4 separate regions of the Homo sapiens genome follow, and all the other regions are linked to region 1. The links come from fine-mapping of genetic effects on gene expression. A gene starts in region 1. Each other region holds a variant in brackets. All regions are shown on one strand. Distances are from middle to middle.

The links. PIP is the estimated chance that this variant, and not a neighbour inherited with it, causes the effect.
Region 2: its variant is fine-mapped to the expression of PDCD1 in monocytes (Quach 2016, PIP 0.95). The same link has a PIP of 0.9 or more in monocytes after Pam3CSK4 and monocytes after R848.
Region 3: its variant is fine-mapped to the expression of PDCD1 in whole blood (TOPMed, PIP 0.95).
Region 4: its variant is fine-mapped to the expression of PDCD1 in minor salivary gland (GTEx, PIP above 0.99).

Annotation. Positions count from the first base shown.
Region 1 is chr2:241,855,885-241,860,884 of GRCh38, forward strand. It overlaps PDCD1 (programmed cell death 1), which reads right to left and starts at 3,010. Exons shown (of 5, transcript NM_005018.3): 1 at 2,879-3,010. The coding sequence starts at 2,954. It overlaps LOC105373977 (a long non-coding RNA gene), which reads left to right. Exons shown (of 2, transcript XR_924076.2): 2 at 1-392. It overlaps LOC124908032 (a long non-coding RNA gene), which reads left to right and starts at 3,188. Exons shown (of 2, transcript XR_007088436.1): 1 at 3,188-4,193. RefSeq lists an enhancer at 2,216-3,178.
Region 2 is chr2:241,819,358-241,824,357 of GRCh38, forward strand. No RefSeq gene overlaps it. Among named protein-coding and RNA genes, the nearest start is that of NEU4, 13 kb to the left of the region's middle. The variant G/A (reference allele first, on the strand shown) is at 2,862.
Region 3 is chr2:241,767,370-241,772,369 of GRCh38, forward strand. D2HGDH (D-2-hydroxyglutarate dehydrogenase) reads left to right here. Exons shown (of 10, transcript NM_152783.5): 10 at 341-1,442. The coding sequence ends at 600. Among named protein-coding and RNA genes, the nearest start is that of GAL3ST2, 7.0 kb to the right of the region's middle. RefSeq lists an enhancer at 3,394-4,306. The variant A/G (reference allele first, on the strand shown) is at 2,579.
Region 4 is chr2:241,410,855-241,415,854 of GRCh38, forward strand. It overlaps FARP2 (FERM, ARH/RhoGEF and pleckstrin domain protein 2), which reads left to right. Exons shown (of 27, transcript NM_014808.4): 6 at 179-276; 7 at 2,453-2,567. Among named protein-coding and RNA genes, the nearest start is that of FARP2, 57 kb to the left of the region's middle. The variant T/C (reference allele first, on the strand shown) is at 2,312.

The DNA.
Region 1 (5,000 bases):
GGGCCGAACCGTGTCCCCACAGATTCCTATGTGGAAGTCCTAACCCCATGACCTCAGAAGGCGGCCTTATTAGGAATAGGGTGACGGCAGCTGGGACTAGGTAAGATGAGGGCACAGGGCTGGGTGGCCATTGACCAGCAGGCCTGGCTTCCTGTACAGAGTCACCCGTGCAGAGATGAAGGCAGAGCCTGGGGGATGCTTCTGAACCCAGGAACACAGAGGGTGGCCACAAAACCCCCCAGCCAGGAGAAGCTGAGCAGAGCCCTCTCGGAGCACAGGGAGCCGACCCTGTGGCCCCTCGGTCCTGCATGTCCAGCCCCCCACGGCGGGAGGACAGGCTCTGTTTTTAAGCCACAGCCGGGAGAGGCTGAGCAGAGCCCCTCAGAGCACAGGGGAGCCGACCCTGCGGAGCTCCATCCTGCACGTCCAGCCCTCAGTCGGCGAGAGGGCAGGCTCTGTTTAAAAGCCACTCGGTCGGCGGAGCTTTGTCATGGCAGCTCCAGCCGCCCAGTCCCCAAAGCAAATGTGTCAATATTCTTAGTTATTGATTCTAGGTGAGGGATATTCATTGTTTTTAAACGTTTTTGTATATTTTTCAAAATAGTCCGTTTAAAATCTGACTTCAAAAGTTTGACTTTAAAAATCAGACTTTAAAAATATGTGTCATGGAGGCCAGATGCAGTGGCTTATGCCTGTAATCCCAGTACTTGGGGAGGCTGAGGTGGGAGGACCATTTGAGCCCAGCCTGGGGAACATAGCGAGACCCTGTCTCTAAAAAAAATGGAAGAAATTAGCCTGGCAGGGTGGCACGTGCCTATAGTCCCAGCTACTCTGGAGGCAGAGGTGGGAGAATTGCTTGAGCCCCGGAGGTCGAGTGAGCCGAGATCACACCACTGCACTCCAGCCTGGGTGACAGAGCAAGACCCTGTCACTAAAAGAAACAAACAAAAAAGTGTCAGGGGCTGGGCTGGGTAGTTTTCACAGATGACCCGATTTAATCCTCAGGACGCAGCCTTGCCAGGAGGCGTCCTCACCCATGACCCAAAGCACACGGAGAAGTCAGTAAGGGGCCAAGTCCTGTCGAAGGCCCAGAGCTCAGCAGTGGCAGCGCTGACTGGAGCTCACAGTGGTCCCACGCCAAAGCAGAGGCTCTTATTTATGCTCCTGCCCTCGGACGGGGCCAATAAGCAGCCGGGTTGGGGATATCTCATAAAACACAAGGGAAGCACACACCTGAGGTGGGAGTGGTGGCCCCGGGAATGACCGAATGGCGAACGCAGTGAATAGATCAGGAGGGAAAAGAGGCATCCTGGAATGAAGACCACTGCGGCCGGGGTGGCCACATCTGGGTCAGGACCCACAGGACCCCAGTCATGCCCACTGCGCCTTGCTGAGTGCCCTGTGCTGTTACCAGTGGGGAAACCGAGGCATGCCACCTGTGAGAGTCTTGTCCGGCACAAGCGCGGGCACCTGAGGCACGAGTGTCAGGCTGCGGACACCTTGCTCTTATCTTTCCCGCCTGGGTCGGGGAGGGTGGCGTCCCGAGGGCGTGCCTGAAGAGCCGGGACACGGGGGGAGAGGCTCGGCTCCCCTCCTGCCTCGCTCAGCTCCCCCTCCCCTGTGACGAGCGCCCCTCTGCCCTCTGGTTCCCCCGCAGTCGTCTCCCTGGGATGCCTTTTGGCCCTTTGCTCTTTGCCTTTTGCCCAGAATCTCCAGTTCTGAGTCCTGAGTGACCCACGGGCCAACCTTAAGAGGTGGCGCTGAGGCAGGAAGGCACGGCCCTGACAAGGATGCTGCCTCAGGTGCCGGGGAGCAGGCCCCGGGAGAGGGGCCGAGGTGGGGAACCCCCAGTCGCCTGCCACAGTGAAGGGGCACCAGGACCCCCGGGGCAGGAGCCTCGAGGGGGTGTCAGGGCGGCCCCAGGGGTGCCCCTCATCTTGTCCTCCCAGTGGTGTCACACCCCGGTACCCAGCAGGGCCCAGAGGGACTGTCTTAGGCTTGGCCTGGGTGAAACCACCCTCCCCAGGCCTTGGCATCCCCAGGTGCAGGCTGGCTGGGCACAGAGGGCCAGCCGGGCACAGAGGGTCCAGGAGCGGGCTGTGGTCACAGTGTACACAGAGGGCCCAGGGTCACGGGCAGCCCAGGAAGAGGCTCCCTCTCTCCTCGATCCGGGAGAGTGAGGCCAAGGCCTCCCCCACGGATGGTCTGAACAGGGCTCGGGGAGAGCCCTGGAATCTGGGCAGAGACCCAGGCGGGCACAATCCCCACCCAGGAGGGATCCTGGAGACAGAAGAACTGTCCTCACTCGAACAGGTACACTTTGGATATAATGAGAAAAATATCACCAGCTCATCTAAACTTTGACGTCGTAAAGCCAAGGTTAGTCCCACATGGGGCTCATCCCATCCTTAGGAAAACTCGAGTGAGGACCAAGGATGCCTGGGCAAGGCAGAGCCGCCACGCAGACTCCCCACGGCCAAGGTTTGGGGTTCTGGCCAGCCTGACCCGTCATTCTACAGAAACACGCAGCCCCAAGGACCGGCTGAGAGGGGACAGAGGTCCTGCCTGCCCAGGAGCAAAGAGGGGACTTGGGCCAGGGGAGGAGTTGGGGCCCAGAGAGGAACCCAGGAGTTCGAGCTGCCCAAAGCCACACAGCTCAGGGTAAGGGGCAGAGCTGGGGGCCAAGGCTGGGCCTGCCACAGCACCCCCCGACCTGCCAGGGACTGAGAGTGAAAGGTCCCTCCAGACCCCTCGCTCCGGGACCCCTGGGCTGCCAGGGCCAGGCCCGCCTCAGCACCCCCCGACCTGCCAGGGACTGAGGGTGGAAGGTCCCTCCAGACCCCTGGCTCTGGGACACCTGACCGCCGACCCCACCTACCTAAGAACCATCCTGGCCGCCAGCCCAGTTGTAGCACCGCCCAGACGACTGGCCAGGGCGCCTGTGGGATCTGCATGCCTGGAGCAGCCCCACCAGAGTGCCGCCTTCTCCACTGCTCAGGCGGAGGTGAGCGGAAGGGAAACTGTCCCAGGTCAGGTTGAAGGGAGGGTGCCCGCCCCTTGCTCCCGCCCCCTCTTCCTCCACATCCACGTGGGCGAGAGTGACAGAGGCAGTGCTGGGGGAGGAGGGGTGAGGAGGGGGTAGGACTGGGGAGAGGGTGGGGGAGGGAGAGAGAGACAGAGACAGGGAGACAGAGGAGATGGGGAGGAGGTGGGCCCGTGGCCCCCACGCCCTACCCCGTGGGGGTCTCCCCAGCTCAGGGCCCCTTCCTCCTCTGTGTCTCTGCTCACTGCTGTGGCCTCTTTCCATATCCCGCCCGAGCTGCCCCTCCTGAGGCTGCCGGGTGGGGGCAGGCCCTTCTCCTCCCCCATCCCCCCCATCTCCCTGGGGGCCGGGCCTCCCTGCCTGGGGAAGGTGGGTGGCCCCCTCTGGGCTCAGGTTCCTGGGCTGCAGTGAGGGGTGGGCTCAACCCCACTCCCATTCTGTCGGAGCCTCTGGGAGCCTCCCGGCTGCCCACAGCCTCTGCCCCTGCTGGGGGCAGGTGCCTGGCCTCTGCCTTCCCGGCCCATCCCCCTTCGCTGGGGCACAGGTGACCCTACTGAATGACAACTGTCCATGGCTAATCGGCTCCCCCTCAAAGCTTCCACCTTGTGGATGGCCTCACACCATGGCCACAGTTCCAGATCTTTCCACCGTGTGATGCCTGCAACAGCCTGACGGGGGGGCTGGGGCGGTGGCAGGGGCTGGCTGTGAGGCTGACCTCCCCTTCCAGCCTTGACCTTCTTCCCCGGGGCCCTGCCCTCCAGCCCACTCGTGCCAGGGTGGGGTGGTTCAGGGGGTCCAGTGCCTGGGCCTGGCTGGCGGCCCGGCGTTTGTGAAATGGCTTGCTTATCTCCTTGTATTCTGTGCTGAGCATTTTATTACAGCGAATGGAAAACAGGAGAAATGAAACTGCTGATATTAGTGATGAGATGCGTCAGGCTCATCAGCTTAAAATAACCGAAGCGAGGCTAGAAACCGCCTGACAGCTGGCGCGGCTGCCTGGCTCCGAGAGACACTCGGCCCGGCTCTGAAGGGAAAACATTAAAGCACCGAAACAGTGGAAAAAGAGCATCAAAGATGATGTCTGCGAGGCGCGGCCACGGCGAGGAAGCTCTCGTTTATGAACAAAGGGCCACTCCCGGGTCTCAGAGATGTGAGGCTGTGTGGGTGGCTTGGTGGGGAGGTGGGGGGGGCCCAGCTGGCCAGGTGGGCTTGGCGGGGGGCCCCCAGGGAGCCTGGCAGCACCCACTGTGCTGCCAGACAGCTAAGGTGGCCCGCAGCAACTGTCTCCTGGCACACCCACCCTTGTGCCTCAGGGGCTGGGGCTCTGGGGCTGGAGAACTGTTGGTTGGTAGGTGCCTCCATAGCCCTGTGCCTCGCCCAGGCAGTGGATAAGTGGCTAAGCTGCCCCTGCTGGCTGTACTTGTCCTGAAGGCAGATTCTGGACAGAACCTCCCTCTGCCCCCAGCCCTGTAGAGCCTTGTTCCAACCTCTGTTGAATGCTGTCTCTGTTCCAGGGCAGCAGTGGGCCTTCCTCAAGGCTCTGAGCTTTGTGGGACGAAGCTGTCCTCTGAGGACTGGGAATGCCACTGTGTGGGCTGGAGGGGAGGCTGGGCCCAGGAGGTGGGCTCTGAGATGGGAGATGCTATCAGACCCCTGGAAGGTCTCCTCACCACCAAGGCCCTGCCCCCAAAATTCCACCTGCCAGGGCTTGGACACATGTCCTGGAGTAGGGGGCGGGCACAGGGAGAAACCCAGCTTCCATCCTACCCCTTCCTTCCTTCTCCTTCTCCCACCCCTCTCCTCTCTCCCTGCAGTTCTTCCCTGTCACCCACTCTCCTTCCCTCCTCCTCTCAGTCCCACTGAAGGCCCCTGGGCCATGGGAGAGGAGACCTGGTGGGGTGGGCCCAGCGTGGAGCCAGGGGACTGCGGCCACTGAGGCCAGGGCTGCCTGATGGTC
Region 2 (5,000 bases), 37 kb before region 1:
TGTCCTGCCTCGTGGTGTGTGTGTAGGTTGTGTTCTGGGTGCATCCTCTCATGCGTGTGTCCTGGCTCGTGGCCCGTGTGTAGGTCGCGTGCTGGGTGCATCCTCTCATGCGTGTGTCCTGGCTCGTGGCCCGTGTGTAGGTCATGTGCTGGGTGCATCCTGTCATGCGTGTGTCCTGGCTCGTGGCCCGTGTGTAGGTTGCGTGCTGGGTGCATCCTGTCGTGTGTGTCCTGGCTCGTGGCCCGTGTGTAGGTCGTGTGCTGGGTGCATCCTGTCATGCGTGTGTCCTGCCTCGTGGTGTGTGTGTAGGTTGTGTGCTGGGTGCATCCTCTCATGCATGTGTCCTGGCTCATGGCCCGTGTGTAGGTCGTGTGCTGGGTGCATCCTGTCATGCGTGTGTCCTGCCTCGTGGTGTGTGTGTAGGTTGTGTGCTGGGTGCATCCTCTCATGCATGTGTCCTGGCTCATGGCCCGTGTGTAGGTCGTGTGCTGGGTGCATCCTGTCATGCGTGTGTCCTGCCTCGTGGTGTGTGTGTAGGTTGTGTGCTGGGTGCATCCTCTCATGCGTGTGTCCTGGCTCGTGGCCTGTGTGTAGGTCGTGTGCTGGGTGCATCCTGTCATGCGTGTGTCCTGCCTCGTGGTGTGTGTGTAGGTTGTGTGCTGGGTGCATCCTGTCATGCGTGTGTCCTGGCTCGTGGCCCGTGTGTAGGTCGTGTGCTGGGTGCATCCTCTCATGCGTGTGTCCTGGCTCGTGGCCCGTGTGTAGGTCGTGTGCTGGGTGCATCCTGTCATGCGTGTGTCCTGGCTCGTGGCTAGCAGGGTCATCACAGTCCACTCTTCTGCCTTCAGATCTGAAGCAAAGGAGCCACAGGCCTCTCTGGGGTTCTGGAAGCCGTGGAGCCCACTGCAGCTCTGCATGGCCCATTCTTCGTCATTCTCTTCTATACTGGGGTGAGCGGCGTCCCCAGCTTCATGTCCCCCTGGAAGCTCAGACTTTGCTACCTTATTTGCAAGTAGGGCCTTTGCAGACGTGATGGAGGTAAGAGGAGGTCATACTGGATTGCAGTGGGTTTAGCCCAGTGACGTCCGTCCTTGTGAGTCACAGACGCAGGGAGGAGCCATGTGAAGGTGGAGGCAGAGGCTGCAGTGATGCCGCCACCAGCCACGGGGGCTGCTCAGAGCTGGAAGAGGCTGAAGGACCCTGCGCTGGAGCCTTCAGAGAGGGTGCGGGCCTGTCACCCTTGGCTTCAGACGGCCTCCAGAGCCGCGAGAGGACGCATTTGCATTGCTTCAGCCGCCAGTCGGTGAGATTTGTTGCGGCAGCCTGGGAAGCAGCACACCTTCCTGCCTTTGCCGTCTGTCCGTCCGTCCGTCTGTCCACATGGGCCTCAGACCCCGGGGGATCCTGGCCGTCACTGCCCGGCCATGTGCAGCCTCGGCCTGTGTCAGACAGACTTGGGCTCGAGGTCCCCAGGAGCTCCGGTCGCCGTGGTGGAGCCTCTCGATGTCTCGGGCTGTCTGCGGCTGGAGCACCCTCTGAGCTGGGGTTGGGTCAGGTCTGAAGAAGGGGCCGGAGCTGGCCCTGCCAAGGGCCCCTCCTAGCAGCCGTGGCCTCCTCAGGTGGGGCCCAGGGCTCCGAGGCCCTGACTCCTCCAGGTCTGGGCAGCTGCTCAGGACCGGGGAAGGCTCTGCCAGGTGTGATGCCCCAGGCTGGGAGAGGGTGTGGCGGGGGGGCTGCCTGGCTCAGGGCAGGTTGAGCCCTTCCTCCTGCCCTCCTGCCACTGCCCCAGCTGTGGCAGGCTCAGGACATCTGGTGTCTGCTGGTGGGGGGGTCGCTGTGCCTGGGGACAGTCCTTCCCCCCTGCTGCACTGGGAGTTCCTCTGGCATCCTGGGAGGCCTGTGCCTCGAGAGAGACCAGCCCCCTAGATTCCTCCCACCACGGGCGGCTCCCCGGCACCCAACCGGCTCCTGAGCCCCTGCCCCACCTCCACATTCCCGATGGCTGCTCTCCCAGCCTCTTTTCCTTCCTTCCACCCCTGTATGGTTTCGATCTGTGTCCCCTCCCAAATCTTATGTCGAATTGTAATTCCCAGTGTTGGAGGTGGGGCCTGGTGGGAGGTGACTGGATCATGGGGTGGACTCTCAGGAAGGGTTTACTGCTATCGCCTCGGTGCTGTCCTCATGACAGCGAGTTCCCCCGAGACCTGGCTGTTTAAAGGTGTGCGGCACCTCCCCACCTTGCTGCTGCTTTCGCCATGTGACGTGCCTGCTCCCCCTTCTCTTCCACCAGGATTGTGGGTTTCCTGGGGCCTCCCCGGAAGCCGAGCAGATGCCAGCACCACGCTTCCTGTAGAGCCTGCAGAACCGGGAGCCGATTAAACTTCTTTTCCTTAAGAATCACCCAGCCTCCGGTGTTCCTTCACAGTAGGGTGAGGGGGGCGAACGCACACCCTGAGCCTTAGGGGCAACTCCTGCTGCTGTGCCCAGGCTGGGCCGGGCAGTGGCTCAGGAACGTGGCGGGGAACACGGTGCCAGTGCTGGGGTCAGGGCTCTGTCGTGGAGGCAGGATGTCTCTGTGGTTCCTTCCTAACCCTCATCCTTTTACCTCTTGTCCTGGCTTACTGGGCTGGCAAGGACCTCCAGGAAGATGTTAAACAGCCTTGATGTCTGATAGGCCAAACAAGGGCCCGGAAGCCGTCTGCATCCTCATTCCGGGGCCTGCACCATGACGTCATGGCGAAGGGCTGCGCCGAGGGGGCCGGCTGAGGGTCTTGAGGTGAGAAATCATCCTGGTCATCTGGGTGGGTCCAGGGTCTCACCAGGGTCCTTATGGGAGGGGACAAAGGGTGGGAGAGGAGGGA[G/A]GAGGCCTTGGAGCTGGGTTTGAAGATGGAGGAGGGGCCACAGCTGAGGAGCCGGTGGCCTCTGGAAGCTGGAAAAGACGGGAAGCGAAGCCCGGACAGCCTGCAGAGGAACCAGCCTTGCGGACCCCTTGATGTTAGCCCGGGGAGGCCATGTCAGACCCCCGGCCCCCAGAACTTCTGGGGATGCATTTGTGTCGTTTCAACCTCCAGGTCTGTGTGATTTGCTATGCAGCCTCGGGAAACAGCTGTGTGGCCACCAGGGTCCCACCCTGCTCCCGCCTTCTGGGCTCCAGGACGCAGGTGTGGGACCCCTCACCATCCGCATGGCCCTCTGCTGTGCACTCTCCTTCTCGTTCGTGTCTGTGCTGCATTCTGGTTGGTTTTCCTTGGCTTTTTTTTTTTTCTAGTTCACGAATTCTCTCTTTGCTGTGTTTAATCAGCTGGGAGTTACTCTCTTGCTCCCTCTCTCCCTCCCCCATCCTTTCTCTGTCCTTGTCTCTCTGTCTCTGTGTCTGTCTCTGTTTCTCTTTGTGTTTGTGTCTCTCTCTGTCTCTGTGTCTTGGGCTGTCTCTCTTTGTGTTTGTGTCTGTCTCTTTCCGTGACTCTGTCTCCCTCTGTGTCTCTGACTCTGTGTCTCTGTCTCTCTGTGTCTCTGACTCTGTGTCTGTCTGTGTCTCTGACTCTGTGTCTCTGTCTCTCTGTGTCTCTGACTCTGTGTCTCTGTCTCTCTGACTCCGTGTCTCTTCTCTGTGTCTCTGAGTCTGTCTCTGTGTCTCTGTCTCTCTTTCTCTGTCTCTGAGTCTGTCTCTGTCTCTTTGTGTCTCTGACGCTTTCTGTCCCTGTCTCTCTCTGTGTCTCTGTCTCTGTGTCTCTGTCTCTGACTCTGTATCTCTGTCTCTCTATGTCTCTGACTCCGTGTCTCTGTCTCTCTCTGTGTCTGAGTCTGTCTCTGTGTCTCTGTCTCTCTTTCTCTGTGTCTCTGTCTCTGTGTCTCTGTCTCTCTGTCTCTGACTCTGTGTCTCTGTCTCTCTGTGTGTCTGTCTCTGTGTGTCTGTCTCTGTGTCTCTGTCTCTGTGTCTCTGTCTCCCTGTGTCTCTGTCTCTCTCTCTGTGTCTCTGTCTCTCTCTTTCTCTGTGTCTCTGTCTCCCTGTGTCTCTGTCTCTCTCTTTCTCTGTGTCTCTGTCTCTGTGTCTCTCTCTGTCTCTGTATCTCTGTCTCTCTGTCTCTGACTCTGTGTCTCTGTCTCTCTGTGTCTCTCTCTGTGTCTCTGTGTCTCTCTCTGTGTCTCTGTCTCCCTGTGTCTCTGTCTCTCTCTTTCTCTGTGTCTCTGTCTCTGTGTCTCTCTCTGTCTCTGTATCTCTGTCTCTCTGTCTCTGACTCTGTGTCTCTGTCTCTCTGTGTCTCTCTCTGTGTCTCTGTGTCTCTCTCTGTGTCTCTGTCTCCCTGTGTCTCTGTCTCTCTCTTTCTCTGTGTCTCTGTCTCTGTGTCTCTCTGTCTCTGTATCTCTGTCTCTCTGTCTCTGACTCTGTGTCTCTGTCGTGTCTCTGTGTCTCTCTCTGTGTCTCTGTGTCTCTCTCTGTGTCTCTGTCTCCCTGTGTCTCTGTCTCTCTCTTTCTCTGTGTCTCTGTCTCCCTTTGTGTTCTTCTCCACGACGTTCTCTTTGTCTGACTTTCTGCTCCTGCCGCGTGCGCAGAGGGGCGAGGAGGAAGCATTTGCGCATGCGCAGAAGGCTCGCTCCACGCCACGTGCTTCAAGCGCGTCGTTCCGTTTAGTATGAAATAAAGGCCCGCGGGGTGGAGAACGTGTCTGTTTTCCAGATGTGGAGATCAAGGCCCGGCAAGTCCTCTGTTGTTGACGGTTCTCAGGTGGTAGAAACGATCTCGCAGCGCACCTGCGTGGCTTCCGAAACCGTTGTCTCAAGCGTGTTCCACTTGATGTGATTAAAAAAGTTCTCGTGGCCCCAAGCACCTGCTTTACCTGCTCAGACCAGAGTGTCGTTCCGTCCCATTCATTCCGCAGCTTTCCCCGAACGCACACAAGTGAAATGTAAATGTCAGTGTGTGTGTATCTATCTCCCGTTTCTCCCAAAGCGAGACCGTCAGCTGCTATCACTGCACAGCGATGCGGGGACCAGGCCCG
Region 3 (5,000 bases), 89 kb before region 1:
GCCCCGGGCTGAGGGAGTAGGAAGAGGGGGGAGAAGTTGGGGAGATGGGAGCCCCGGGCTGAGGGAGTAGGAAGAGGGGGGAGAAGTTGGGGAGATGGGAGCCCCGGGCTGAGGGAGTAGGAAGAGGGGGGAGAACTTGGGGAGAGAAGCAGGGAGAAGCCAAGGTAGCAGCGGCCCCAGAGGAGGGGTCGGCACGTCCAGGGCGAGTGGCATGAGGGTGAGGCTCAGCCGGGGGTCTCGGGGTTGCTGGGGAGGGGATCTTGGGAGGGGCTGTTGGGGGAGGAGTGGGGTCCTGGGGGCTGCCCTGCCCAGCCTGACCCATGTGCCCTTGTCCCTCCAGGAGATGGTAACCTGCACCTCAATGTGACGGCGGAGGCCTTCAGCCCCTCGCTCCTGGCTGCCCTGGAGCCCCACGTGTACGAGTGGACGGCCGGGCAGCAGGGCAGCGTCAGCGCGGAGCACGGAGTGGGCTTCAGGAAGAGGGACGTCCTGGGCTACAGCAAGCCACCGGGGGCCCTGCAGCTCATGCAGCAGCTCAAGGCCCTGCTGGACCCCAAGGGCATCCTCAACCCCTACAAGACGCTGCCCAGCCAGGCCTGACGGCCACTCCTGCTGCTGCCAAGGCCCACTGGGGGTCGGCGGGTGGCTCTCGGGCGGGGGTGTTGCGGTGGCTCTGAGGGATGAGCCGGCAGTGGGCAGGGGACCAGGCACCTGGTTGAAGGGACTGGGAGCCCGCACTGGGGAACTGCCGGACGCAGGCCCTCGGGCAGGAGCATCTGGCAGAGTGGGGGGCGTGGCAGGCACCCTCCTTTGCAGGGCGAGGTGGGGCCTCTGCAGCCATCCTGGACAGGCCGGGGTGGCGGCAGCTTTGCCCACGTGGAAGCGGGGTGGGTCTCACTTGCGTGGTGGCCCCTGGCCCCATCTTGCCTGCTGCGGCCTGGGGAGCAGGCGCTGGGTGGTGGTTCTGCCTGCTTGCTGCTCGTTCCCCGGGCATGCGTGGGCAGCGGGGGGCATGCGTGGGCAGCAGGGGGCGTGGGCAGCGGGGGCACGGGCAGGACCACGTGGGCCGTGATCGTGGGTTGCCGAGAGGACCTGAGCGCTGCGGCTCTGCTGAATGGAGCCGGGTCCCTCAGGCCGTGGACGCCCTCGGGAGGGGGGTGACTGTGGCTTGTGTCTGGACAGGAATGTGTCATTTCCCACATCTTCTAGAGGGCTGCCAGCTGGGAAGACAGTTATCAGGGCAAGCTGTGCTCTGAGTTTCGGGTTCTGCTCCTACAAAGAACGTGCGGTGCTGCGGGCGAGGGCCCCGGCACGGACAAGGGCCACTGCAGAGTGTGTTTCTGCTCGTCAGCTGCCCTGGGCAGCGGATGGGCTGGGCGATGCAGCTGGATGCACATCTCATTCTGTCATGAATGTCCAGTAAAAATCTGAATTGGTTGCAACCTTCTCTTTGCTTCTGTTACTGGAAAATCATCTTTCAGAGCCCATTGTGAAGGGCCTGTGCATCCCATTCCCACAGCCCCTGGACCACTGGGGCCATAGTGTGGCCGGGCCTGACACTACTGTGACTGTCACTGTGCCTCCTGTCCCCATGCACTGTCTGGTGGCAGCTGAGCTCCCACCGGCTGCACAGGGCAGGCCTGGACATGGAACGGGCAACTCATAACCCTTGGTGGCCCTGGAGGCCCTCAGCAGCTGGGCCTGACCGAGGTGTATCCACGGGCCCCTCCTGTCCCTGTGGGTGTCGAGGACCTCGGATCCTGCTCAGAGGGGGAAACATACCTCTGACCCGCTGCCCTGCAGAGCCCGCCTGCCTAGCCAGGGCCTCTGTGTGGACAGGCCACGTCCTCCTGGTGGAGGTCCTCGGGGGATGGGTGGGGGCCTTGGTCCAGCATGATTTTTTTTTTTTGAGACAGGATCTCACTCTGTCACCCAGGCTGGAGTGCAGGGGTATAGTCACAGCTCAGTGCAGCCTCCACCTCCTGGGCTCAAGTGATCCTCCCACCTCAGCCTCCTGAGTAGCTGGGAGTACAGGTGTGAGCCATCATGCCCAGATAATTTTTTTTTTTTTTTTTGAGACAGAGTCTTGTTCTGTCACCCAGGCTGGAGTGCAGTGGTGCGATCTTGGCTCACTGCAAGTTCCGCCTCCCGGGTTCACGCCATTCTCCTTCCTCAGCCTCCCGAGTAACTGGGACTACAGGTGTCCACCACCGTGCCCGGCTAATTTTTTGTATTTTTAGTAGAGATGGGGTTTCACCTTCTTAGCCAGGATGGTCTTGATCTCCTGACCTCATGATCTGCCCGCCTCGGCCTCCCAAAGTGCTGGGATCACAGGCATGAGCCACCGCACCCGGCCATGCCCAGATAATTTTTAAATTTTTTTTTTTGTAGAGATGAGGTGTCCCTGTGTTGCCCAGGCTGGTCTTGAACTCCTGGCCTCCAGCGGCCTCCCACCTCAGCCTCCCAAAGTGCTGGGATTACAGGCCCGAGCCTCTGCGTCCAGCCGATCCAGCATGCTTTGAAGGCACAAATCAGGGGCACTTTCATGCTGGCCCAGCAGAGCCAGTGGGTCCCGCCC[A/G]ATGCCTGGGCTACTTCCTGCTGTGCCTGGGGGCACCTGGGGCTGTCCTGCCTCACTGGCCAAGGCCCGGCTCTGTCCCTGGGCTCTGGCCACTGTTCTGCCATCCCAGGCTGGGTACCCATGGGCAGCCCGACAGTATCTGTTGCACAGAGCAGACCCCAGGCCCCATGGGTGCCTGACACGAAGCCCCACAGCGTGTGCCCGCGTCCCCCGAGGTCAGCCGGCGGCTCCTGCCCTTCCCTCTGACCTCTGGTTGGGGGCCGGCCATTTTTCTGCTTGTTCCTCTAGCTCTGCTACTGGGCACATGGTCCGTGCTGGGTAGGCTGCAGGCCAGGGTGAGTTGCTGACCCGCTGACCCTGGCTGTGCACCTGCCCTCCTGCCCTGGGTGGCTGCTGCTGGCCCAGGGGTGACTTGGGGGCTTTCAAGCTTCTGCCCGTGCTGGCCGCACGACCCCACGTCCCACCCTGGGTAGGGACTTGTGATTCTCAGAGCTGGGGTCCGTTGCTTTCCTAAGGACCTCCGGCCCTGGTCGTGGTCTAAATGCTCACTCCTGTTGTTGGAGAGGCCAGCCGGGTGACAGGGAAAAGCCCAGAGCCCCGGGCTTCCCGTGAGGATCTGGGCTCAGCATGGGCTGTGGGGCTGCAGAGGCCTGGCCTTGCCTGCTGAGGGACACCCGCTGGTAGTGCCTGCAGAGGGGGGAGGAGGAATTCCTCCCCCTAGTGCCCTCTGGACCCTGGGAGAGCAAGACCTCTGCATCCACACTGCCTTCCGCTGGGCCTCTGGGGACTGGGGAAGCGGACACAGTCCAGGACTGTTGGAGGAGGAAGAGGCTGCGGCTGCTCTTCCCTGGGGGTCCGGCTCCAGGAGGCTGCGGTGACCGTTGGGCCGGAGCAGGCCAGTGCCGGGCACGTCCTGCCCATGACAGCCCTGCTGCCAGCCGTGGGCACTTGTTCCTGGAGCTCCGTGGCTGGGTCCTGCCGTCTCCGCTGCTGCCCTGCCCTGCCATGTTCACCTCCAGTTTATCCAGCAATGGGGAGAGGGGCTTCTTAGATCCCCCTCAGGCTTTTCTTTTGTGCCTTTAGATATGTGAAATACAACACAGCCAGGCAAAGCAGGTGCCGGTGAGACACCTGGCTGGCCCGAGCTGGCCCGAAGAACTGCCTGTCTGCCATGAGGAAAACCCACACTGCGTGGTGGCTGGGAGGCCAGGAGTTTTCACAAGCCGGAAACCTGTTAGATTTCTCTACCTGACAGCAGGAAAATCTGATGAGACCCGATCGCATCCAGGCAGGCCGTGTTCTCGCAGCCCGCGGGTTAACACAGACTCCGAGTGACTCCGACGCAGGAGAACGCGGCGAATCTGCGTGAGGCAGGCCACCAGCCTTGGTGCCCCGGAGACAGCTCCCCCAACGGCCATGTGACGGCGTTGAGTGTCCGTGGTCAGGTGTGTGTAAGAGACGCGCAGAGAATTCCACGCCGTCCCAACCTCCCAGCCGGAGGCTCTGACGAGGCCTGCAGCCACGCGGAAAGAGCAATGAGGAGCACGTGTGTGGGGAGGAAGGCGGGTTCTGGCCCCGTTCCTTCCGCAGCAGCTCCGGCCTGGCGGGTTCTGACGGAATTCTGCAGCGGCTCCAGCCAGGGTCGTCGGGGCGGGGTGGGTGCTCAGGGGCGGCCTTTGTGTTCGGATTAGAAGCTGGTGATTGTCACATTAAGACCTCTAAGCTGCTGCAATCTGAGAAGATGTTACACAACCAGGGCCCCTGAGCTGAGGCCAAGGAGGGGGCCAGGAGAGTGGTGGGAGGGGCCCCAGGCAGGGCCAGAGCTGCCTGTGTACAGCAGGGGAGAGGGGAGAAGGGGTGGGCCGGGTGGTCTCAGCCCCAGGGAGAGTGGAGTGCCCGCCCCTCCCCTCCCCCAGGACGGCTGGCCCCTGGGAGAGCCCCTGGGGGAGCCAGTTTCCTGTAAGCAGAAGGGCAAGTGGTTGGGACCCAGAGGTGTCTGACAGTTGTGGACTTAGAGCCCAGAGGAAGGGTTTGGGGTTTGGGGCTCCTGGGACGCCGCAGGCCCCTGAGGACGTCCATCAGGATCCTGGCAGTGTGGAGGTGTAGGGTCCAGCCCTACGGGGCTTAGCGGGTGTTTTCCCTGTGTGTGGAGATGAGGGATTGTAATAAATAAAGACACAAGATAAAGAGAGAAAGAGAAAGCAGCTGGGCTCTGGGGACCACTACCATCAAGACGCGGGGACCAGTAGTGGTCCCAGAGGGCTAGGCCCACTGATATTTATTGCATACAAGACAAGGGGGCAGGGTAAGGAGGGTGAATCTTCTCAGTGATTGACAAGGTGAAGTAAGTCATGTGATTACAGGATAGGGGGCCCTTCCCTTTTAGGTAGCCGAAGCAGAGACGGAAGGCAGCAAACGTCAG
Region 4 (5,000 bases), 450 kb before region 1:
TTGTTTCATGAAAGGCCTTTTGTGACTTTGCTGTTTCGTGACCGCCTTGCGTTTTGCTCACTGTTGGGTCACTGCCACTTCCCAGGGCTCATTTGCTGTCTTGCTGTGGAGACATGTCTATGTTACATTCAGAGAACATTTGGAATTGATCTCTGTCTTATTTTGAACTCTCTTCTAGATACTTGTTTGCCTTGCAACTTAAGAGAGACCTGCTGGAAGAGCGTTTGACCTGTGCTGACACCACAGCGGCCCTTCTCACGTCCCATCTCCTGCAGTGTGAGTATCTCCCCGCCAGCGGGGAGCATTCACTGACCATGGCACAGATATACCCGCACTCAGAACTACAATTAGTTGCTGATGTATTTGCCTAGTTAGTGAGCCTGACCATAGAATGAGGTGTTTCAACTTCAGTGTTTTTTATAAGCTACAGATTAACTTCTGTAAAGTGGAACTCCTTGAGGCAAATAGTTTCCACGTAGCAAACACAGGCCAAGGCCAAAATCTGTAGCCACGTTCCTTCTTTTGGGTTGTCTCTCATTTATGCCTTTGTGCATTTTACCAGCAATGCATATTCAGTCTAAGAGTCAGAATATAAACCAAACTCTGAGCAAACCCTGGAAAGGGCCTCACTGGGATAAAAGTTACAGTCCTCTCAGATTAGTAAAGCATTAGCCATGAAGGAAAAAGAAGACATTTCTTCAGTATCTCACACAGATCAAGAGATGGTTCAGAACTGTGTCAAGAATTATAGTTACTTCAAAAATAAACCATGAGAAGTGTAAGAGGAGGTTCTGGCACCTTGCCGAGCCCCCAGCGATGGGAATAGAAAAACAGAAATACCCACATTGCTCCTGGACTAGAGGTGGGACCACAGCTAGCACAGAACTAATGTTTCTGAAATTTGAATCCAGGAAATATGACATAGAAAGTTCCAAAATTTTAGGAATTAATAAGTATATAGGTTATTTGCAGCTTCCTTGGTCCTTCCCCAGACATACCTTCTTCAAATAATAAATTTTATTATGGGTTTGCTATCCTCCACCAGGGGACGTGTTGATTAATAAAAGTTTTCAAAGTGACTTTGGTTCTTACTCATTTGGCTGAAAGACTTCTCAGGTAGACACATGGCAACGAATGCAATGTATGACTGAACCAGATCTTTTTGCTATAAAAAACATAATTGGGCAGTTGGTAAAATATGACTAGGGTCCACATCTGGGATGGAGCCTCAGATCGTGGCCCTGTTCCTGATCTGGGTAGTTTTACAAGGCTGCGGGTAAGAATATTGTATTAGTCCATTTCCACACTGCTGATAGAGATGTGGCGGCAGCGAGAGAGGCTTGTACAGGGAAATGGCCCCTTGTAAAATCATCAGATCTCATGAAAGTCTCACTATTACAAGAACAGCACGGAAAAGATCCGCCCCCATGAGTCAGTTACCTCCCACTGGGTCCCTCCCACAGTAAGTGGGACTTGTGGGAGTTATAATTCAAGATGAGATTTGGGTGGGAACACAGCCAAACCGTATCAAATGTCATAGTTTATAGGAAGTCCATACTGAAGTATGGCAAGTAACATGTTAGCAACTCACTCTCAAATGGCTCAAAGGAGAAAAAACTCTTGTACTGTGCTTGTAACTTCTCTGTGAATATGAGATTGTCTAAAAATAAAAGCATATTGCTTTAAATTATTGAACTTTATGTTATTAAGACATTGTGGCCTTAAAATACATGAAATTAGACAGAGACATTATTCATCAAGAAATTTGAGAAGGTCTGAAGGAAAAAAATCATTTAAAATACATTATCCTAAAATAAATAAAATACTTCAGCCTGATCATGATAATCTTGAGACAATTTAGGTTTAAGGTGTAGTTTAAAAATAATAGTAGTCCAGGTGCAGTAGCTCATGCCTATATTCCCAGCACATTTGGGAGGCCAAGGCAGGAGGATTGCTTAAGTCCAGGAGTTTGAGACCAGCCTGGGCAATGTGGCAAAACCTTATCTCTACAAAAAATACAAAAATTAGCTGGGCATGATGGTGCTTACCTATAGTCCCAGCTACTTAGGAGGCTGAGGCGGGCAGATTGCTTGAGTCCAGAAGGTTGAGGCTGCAGTGAGTAGTGATTGCACCATTGCACTCCAGCCTGGTCAACAGAACGAGACCTTGTGTCAAAATAATAATAAACACATTAAACTCATCAATGTTTGCCTCCCTGGAGTTACTAATCAGGCCTTTGTTCTTCAAGAAATCCTCTTCACTTCCCATTATATTTGCCTTTTAACAGCATAAAATATTTGGAAAAATTAAA[T/C]AAAAAATCTTGCTTTTTTAGGGATATATTCTTTTGCTACAAATTTGGGATAATTTTTTTTTACTTTTAATGTATGCAATGACACATACAAATGCTTGTAGTTTATTTAAAAATTAGTTACTTACTTTTAACCTATCTCAGCGGAAATAGGAGATTACGATGAAACGCTGGACCGAGAGCACCTCAAAGTGAACGAGTATTTGCCTGGCCAGCAGCACTGCCTTGAGAAGATACTAGAATTCCATCAGAAGCACGTGTAAGTCATCACAATTGTCTGTCAACACATTGTCACCACAGTAATGACTAAAGAGTGTGTAACGAGAAAGGACTGTTGTCGTGACTTCTGCAAGATTCTAACATAAGGACCATTGCTCCTGGCCTCAGGATGTGCAGCTGCTGCCAGAGGCAGCTTGGCAGACACACAGACACACAGGTGCCCTGGCCTGAAGCACCTTCACACCTGCACGATGTGCTGCTTTAGAAGGTGCTGGAAGAAGCCAGGCACGGTGGCTCATGCCTGTTATCCCAGCACCCTGGGAGGCTGAGGCAGGTGGATTGCCTGAGGTCAGGAGTTTGAGACCAGCCTGGCCAACATAGTGAGACCCCATCTCTACTAAAAATACAAAAAATTAGCTGGGCTAATGGCAGGCACCTGTAGTCCCAGCTACTCAGGAGGTGAGGCAGGAGAATCGCTTGAACCCAGGAGGTGGAGGTTACAGTGAGACAAGATCGTGCCACTACACTCCAGCCTGGCACCAGAGTGAAACTCCGTCTCAAAAAAAAAAAAAAAGGTGCTGGAAAAGACATCAGGGTCTGGGGGAGGAGGATGCTACTGAGCAGGATGGGGTGGCTATTGGGGGGGTGTCAGCTGCTGCAGTGTCTCTGCAGTGTGGCAGAAAGAGTCCTCTACGGGGAAGACACTGTGCTGTGGTAGAGGAGGAGGGGACTGTGTGAGGCTAACAGTGTCTGCCTGTGTCAGGGCATTGGGAATCGCCTGGCACCCATGGCCTTCATCTCATCTTGTTTTGATTTCTCTAAGACTTGACACTGGTGGGTTTTTCTGGATGGAAGTGATAGAGACCTAGAGAAGGAGTGCTAGCTAAGGGGAAAAGGATTGAAGAACGGTATGGGAAAGGGCTCTGGGCTCTGGCCCAGGTGGCTGGGAGCTTTAGTCACCAAAGGGGAGCACTCAGCTGGTGAAAGTGAGTCAGGAGGACTTAGCCTTGCCTTTGTGACACATCCTGTTGAGATGCAGGTTTGTTTGTCAGATCATGTATGTTCATGTGTGTCGTTAAGGCTCTACCGGGACCTGCTGGCAGCTGCCCTTTCACACCTTCAAAGTATGAGTGCCAGCTATGCATCCACCACTGCTGTCAGCACTGGGGAGCTGGTTTGAACGGCACAGACTGAGGTGCCTACCCATACAGATCTTACCTTACCCCGTAAGATTGTGTGGATTTCGTGCACCTCACCACTCCCAGTGTGGGGGATCTCTTGTGTTTGCAGGGGAGTGCCTTTTGTGTGCCCGACAGCATGGCAGTCATGAGATATACAGATGCGTTTCTACAGATGAGAATGTGTGCAGTGTAGCGGGAGCATAGCTCATACGCTGTGAGCTGAAAGAAGGCCGAGGGCAGGCTCAAGGAGGCTCGTGGGAGGACCTAGGCGGACAAAGCCAGGGAGGAAGCATTCCAGGCAAAGCACCAGCCTGGGAAGGGAGGGAGAAGGAAGCAGAGAGGAGAGGGAGGTTCCAGCATGGCTTGGGCAGTTTGGGTTCAAGGGCTGGAGGTAGAAGTGCCAACTGATACTGGAGAGGCTGTAGTGGCAATTACGGACAGCTCTTACGAGCATTTTTGTGTAATCCTCAAACCCACATCATGGCATGCACTGTTTTACTCCATTGTACATACGGTCAGACCATGCGTGCAGAGCTCCATCTCGGACATGACGGTGTGGGGCATCTTGTGTGTGTAAGTCGGTGCTTCTCATCCATTTGCCTGACCTGACCTTGAGGAGGCCTCCATGCAGGGCAGTACAGGTAGAGCTCCTGCTCTATTCTCCCAGGTACCCTTGGCTTTGCCTCTTTCAAGTGTTGCCATTATTCTAGCTGGTAGTGAGGAAGGTACAGCTGTTCTGAGTGTCACATCCAGACCTTGACCCATGGAGCCAAGGGCCCTCTGCTAGTGTTGTGTGCCATCCCAGCAGGAAACGGTCACTGGTTCAGTCTGCATTCCTAGGGTTGGGGATAGTCTCTCCCTGCTGAGACACACAGCAGGGGCTGGACATGAGGAAGGGAGAATTGGGCATTGTGCTGCGAACTGTCCAACCTGAAGGACAGTCCCTAGTGGATGGGTGGGTTTGGGATGCTGGGGAGAGTGTTGTCAGCACGTAGGCTGGGCTAACCTGTGCAGTGGGTGAAATCAGCTAGGCAGAGGGCAGATACAGGTCAGGAAGGGAGAAGAGCCCAGGATGAACCCCTGAAGAACTGACATTTGAGAGGCTGAGTGCAGGAGGAGGCACCCACAAGAGCCTTTAGCAGCCAGAAGCATGGAAGGGCACAGGTGCCAAGAGAGCATGTTTTAGGATAGTGGCCACAGCCTCTTGTGTGGAGACTACAGGCCTGGGGAGGTAGGCACAGGAGCAGGTTTCTGAGCTTGGCAGTGTGGCAGTGTATCGCCTTCAGCAGCTT